2 separate regions of the Homo sapiens genome follow, and region 2 is linked to region 1. The links come from fine-mapping of genetic effects on gene expression. Tissue or cell type: whole blood. Region 1 holds a variant in brackets; the other region holds the start of a gene. All regions are shown on one strand. Distances are from middle to middle.

The links. PIP is the estimated chance that this variant, and not a neighbour inherited with it, causes the effect.
Region 2: ARHGAP10 starts here. The variant in region 1 is fine-mapped to the expression of ARHGAP10 in whole blood (INTERVAL, PIP 0.96).

What each region holds. Positions count from the first base shown.
Region 1 is chr4:148,060,729-148,063,410 of GRCh38, reverse strand. It overlaps ARHGAP10 (Rho GTPase activating protein 10), which reads right to left. Exons shown (of 23, transcript NM_024605.4): 21 at 111-263. Among named protein-coding and RNA genes, the nearest start is that of MIR4799, 280 kb to the right of the region's middle. The variant T/G (reference allele first, on the strand shown) is at 1,423.
Region 2 is chr4:147,730,806-147,733,487 of GRCh38, reverse strand. ARHGAP10 (Rho GTPase activating protein 10) reads right to left here and starts at 1,400. Exons shown (of 23, transcript NM_024605.4): 1 at 1,033-1,400. The coding sequence starts at 1,186. RefSeq lists enhancers at 614-683, 4-896, 897-1,789 and silencers at 794-873, 1,184-1,703.

The DNA.
Region 1 (2,682 bases):
GGGTATCTGGGCAAGCTTTTGCCAGCAGAGAACACAAGAACCTGCTCAGGTTCATCAAGCCCCCTGTGTGTGCTGCCACCATATTCCACATTCCACTCCAAACCACGTACCTTTCAGGTGGCTTGTCCGCTACAGTAGCAGGAGGAGAAAAGGGGAAAGGGGACGACCCGGGTGAAAGAGGTGTCACAGCTGAGTTGGAGCTTGTTGTGGTTGGAGACTGTGGGTTAAGCCACTGGACCATAGACGATCGGGTCTGGCCTGGGCTAAGGGTAGGAGTTTGAAGGACAGGATTAATAGCAGAAAGGCCACAGAACACGAAATGCACAACATCCCAATCCCAGATGACTAGGTCACTAATTCCCCTATCATGCCTGACCAGTAGGGACAGAGTCCTCTCTGCATCCTGCCGGGGCTGCAGCCCAAACTACGGATACCAACAACCCAGAAACCAGCCACAGCCCCAAACTCAAGCTGTCTTACTGTCCTTCTCCAGGTTCTCCAATCTGTCCAACCTGCTAGCACCCTATGAGTTCACTAATTAGAAAACCAGAATCTAATTGATCAAAGGAGTAGTGGGACATTCAAGGTATTCACTTTTTCTAATTATAAGGAAAACCACAGGAATCTAGCATCAAGCACATGACCGGCAGCTGCAAAAGATCAGCTAAACATTTAAAGATCTTTCACCTGCTCCTACACGTGTGGCAATTCAGAAGAAAATGCCACTGGATTCAGGCTTCCTCTAGAGAGGGCCAAAGACTTCGAAACCAATGAACAGCAAAAACTTCTGGTGACCAGAGCATTTCTTAATATTTCCCTTTTTTTTTAAAGTTAATGTAAACAGGTCAGTGAACAGACACCTGGAATGGCCTCTAAGCACAGAGGGAGAGTTCAAATAATTGATGCGTGTTAATCTGAATTACTCTTCAGTGACCTCAGAACTGGAGGCGACTATGGTTTATGACATTCCCTTGAGAAGTGTCTCGTTTCATTCAGTGACATTTTGAACACACACGTGTTCCCTGTCTGCAGCACCCAGGTGCTCTTCACCTAAGATACCCCGTCTTCTGCTAAACCAGTACACCAGTTTCCACGAGCAGTTTCCCGAGGCTTCTGCACTCCTCAGCATGCTCTCAGATTGTTTCCCCTGCCGGAGAACTAGCACCGTGTTCTTCAGTACCAGCATGGTCTCCTGGCCAGCCCCTAGGTGCAATCCTCCAACACGGTGACACTCAGCAACCTAGGGCCAAGTTTACCCACTTGTCTCCCTATACACAATGCTCCTGCACCTGCTCACCTACCAGGGGCCGTCCCGCCCCAGCAGCCTACCCTGTCTGCCACAGCTCTGCTTCCTGGCGTTCCCACCTCCGCCTCAAGCTTTGCCTTTCCTCTCAAGCTCCCCGCCCTGCTCTAATCTTGCCC[T/G]TCCTTGGCTCAGCTCCAGTTCCACCTCCCCCAATACTCCCCCTGTGGCCTCTCTAACCCATACACCTTCCCTGAAGGCCTGCGACACCAATAAATGAAAGGGCACATTGATACTGGTTGTTCTCTGATGCCTTCAAGTATTTCTCTTGCCTCCACAGGAAGATCTTTAACTCTTTTTCCAGATCTCACGAAGCCAGGCAGATTGGCGGGGACATGGAGCCATCAGCCAACATCGGAGCAACCAAATTAGAAAGCTCTAAAACCAAAAGTGGATTTTACAAATCTGGTGCATAATTGACTTGGTAGGTATTTAATACACAGAAGCTTTCCTATGCTTTGGTCAGGAAAAAAAGGGGGTCATTTAAAAAAAAAAAACATTATTCTTCTAAGAGCTTATTTACAATTCCCTTATCCAGCCATTCATCTGGGAGTCATAAAATCTATTTTATCCCAAGGCAAGATTTGTTATAAATCTTAAAGTGATCTGTATCAACAGTCACAAAAGTCACTCCATTTTTTTTTAGCAGAAAAGGAACGCTGAATGTTGTCTTACTAATCAGGAACGGAAAGGACAGGTAGGCGTGAGTGAAGCCCTGGCAGGAAATTAAGGCCACAGTTAGCCAAACAATTGCCAAGTTATCTCCCAGCAATTATTCAAGGTGCTTGGAGGGTGTGAATGGAGGAAGATGAGATGTTTTGCCACACCCCCCATCAGCTCTTCAGAGTCATAAATCGTCAATGACTGCCATCCCTCTGCCTAGAGGGAGGACAGTTACAGGAAGAAGATAAAGTAACTATGTGACTACACTTATGTGGCCCTTGAAAAATAAAGAGCATAAATTTTATAGGTATTGTCTGCTTGATCCTCACATCTTTCTTTAAAAAAAAAAAAGGAAACCTCCATGAAAACACCCGCGGGTGGGTGGGTGTGTTTGTTTAGGGAAAATACCCCTCAGTTTTTAGAAAGTGAAAGAACCACTGTAATGACAGATACGCAACAGAAAAGCCTGCCTGTCCCGCACCCTGGCTTTCTCCATCTCATCCCAAAACAGGAACACAGAATCAGCAGTCCTTGTCCAGGGTCAAGTTCTCCACATTCACCTTTTTTGTTTTTTTGTGATCTTTCTGTTGCTATTTAACACATGCGCTATGTGATCTAGCACTAACCGGTTCACCAAGATTACCTCCCACACTTCCCATGTAGACTTAAGTTTCTGCATGTGATTTCCTGGGTGTGTCTCAGAAGCCTCTACTAGGTAA
Region 2 (2,682 bases), 330 kb after region 1:
CCAGCCCCTCAAGGCTGGATACTGCCCAAGTCCCTGTCTGCTGTATGGACAGGTCTTTTAAAGGGGGAAAGGGGACATTCACCGCCATCCTCCGAAGGGGTTATGGATCCAAGGGATGGTCAGGCTGCCCAGCTCCTCACTGGGGCTAATTCCGCCCCATTTTCCAGTAGCATCACTAACTCAGTATTTCTGCATGAATTTTGGCCCCTTCTCTCCTAGAAAGACTCTCCTCAACTACACTAAAATACAGTTATCTCTCCTGTATCTCGTGTCTTCTTCCGAGTTTAAGAGACAGAAGTTCAGGGGAGGAAGGCACCAAGCCTAACCGGGGTGGAATTCCCTATTTGCAAGCAGTGCCCGCCTAGGCTAGAGGGCAGGCTGTCCGCTCACCCTTCCAAACCCCAATCTTTGAACCCTCCTCAGCACGGCAGGGGAGGAATGTGCGGAAGCAGCATAAAGCCAGGTGGACTTTCTGGTTTGGCACGTGAAGGACCTGGAACAGGACTGTCGGGGAAGATCAGACAATGAGAGGGAAAAGGTGAAGCTTAAGGGGACTCTGGAAAACTCAACACTCCCGCAGGGTTTCAAAGAATCCCCAAGAAATTTCTTTTGAGAAGTCACAAAACAAAACTAGGCAAACAGATGCCTCGGTTTTGTAAGAGATTGTGAGTAGCTTTAGGCAGCAATGAAACCTGACTCCGGGCCAGGAGTGCCTAGGGTCGGTCCAGCGGAGCGCGCATTCAGCGAGGGGTGTTCGGCCGGGGCCAGGCGGGGCCCAGGCGGGGCCCGCTGGCAGCTGGTTCCCGCCGCCGCAGAGCCGCAGGGGCGGGAATGGGGACTCGCCGCGCTGCCTCGAGGAGGAATGATTCCAGGGACCCCCCGGGGTTCCGAGAGAGCTGGGCTGGTCCGGAATGAATTCCCCGTTCCTCTGGCTGCTGGCCCCGGACACAAGACCCTCCGTCTCCTGCCGAGAGAGGCTCCCCCAGCCGCCTCGCCACGCCGCAGCCCGTCCGCGCCCGCGTCCCCGCTTACTTTTCGTCGCAGCGATGAGGTTCTTCCCGTCCTTAATGAGCTCTTTGATGAACTTGTTGGTCCTCTCGAGTTCCGCTTCGTGAGCGCGGATCCTCTCCCGGAACCACGGGCTGTCGAGGTAGCAGTCGCTGAACTCCAGGGGCTGCAGCCCCATGACGGCAGCGGTCGCTGCGCGGTGCGCACGGCCGCGCGCTCCTGCCCGAGCCGAGCTCCGAGGCCGCTGCCAGGTGCGGCGCCGCGCGTTCAGGGAGCACAGAGGAGCTAGCAGGCCCGGGCGCGCGGCGAGCGCGGCACGGACATGTCCCGTAGAGCCGAGTCCTGCGGCGCGGAGGAGCTGCCACCGAGACCAGCGCTAGCTGCGGCGCCCCAATCCCGGCAGCCCCCGCCGAGCTCTGAGCGCCCGCGGCCCCGCCCCGCCCGGCCCCCGCGCGGCAGACACTCCCCGAGGCGCCACCCGGCCGGGCCCGCGCTCCCGCTCGTCCCCTTCTCTTTCCTCCGCCTTCCTTCTTCCTCCCTTCCCTTCCCTGGACGCCTCTTCCTTCTCTTCCCCACGCGCAGCTGCCCCTCCTCTTCCTTCCGAGGCGTCCTGGGGCTAGAATTTCGCCCCGCGGCTCCCCTCCACCCTGGGCGCTCTCCCCTCCCCTTTGCTTGGGCTCCCGGGGCCGGGGTGACTCACAGTCGGCTCCCCGCTGCACGGAACCCGACCGGGACCGAGAAGGAGCGTCTTAATTGCAGTCGTTAGTCCCCGCAGGCGGGCGACATAACTCTGAAGTGGCTGCCTTGCAGGAGATGATTAACTCATTTATCTCATTTATCCTGGGACGCCCCCAACCCCGAGCTGGGAACGAACTCGCACAGGGGGCTCTTTTCCTTATCCCGGTTCCTTTCCCAGTTTAAAGTGAGATGCGTGGTAAATCTCCGCTTGAGATCGAAGCCTTACAATGGCAAGAGCGTTTTCTTGGTGGCCCAGCAGCTCCTATTACACTTCTCTGCGTATCCGCACTAAATAACTTAGTTGAAGAGAGAGGGCTGGCTAAACCACAGAAAAGTTGTTTCTGTTGTGTTCAGCACATTAAATTTGCTGGGGTAGGTGAAGACGATCTTTATTATTCTAAAAATAACTACCGGAAAACATGCCAGGTAACGTGTGGTTTTCACCGCGTGGGGGTGACGATCAATGAGAATTTATGTCAGTGCCCTCAAAAAGCCTATTTTGTGTGTTATGAAACAACTCCAGTGTGTCCCAAAAAAAGTTAGGCATTTTAAAGTATTAAAATGTATACCTTAGGCCGGACGTGGTGGCTCACGCCTGTAATCCCAACACTTTGGGAGACGGAGGCGGGTAGATCACCTGAGGTCAGGAGTTGGAGACCAGCTGGCTAACATGGTGAAACCCCGTCTCTACTTAAAATACAAAAAGTACCCGGGTGCGGTGGCACGTGCCTGTAGTCCCAGCTGAGGCAGGAGAATCGCTTGAACCCAGGAGGCGGAGGTTGCAGTGAGTCGTGATGGTGCCACTGCACTCCAGCCTGGGCGACAGAGCGAGACAATGTCTCAAAAAAAAAAAAAAGTATTTCTTAAAAAAAAACACTAATAGTTCATTAGAGTAACGTTTCATAATCGCAATTTATTAAGCAATTATTATGTGCC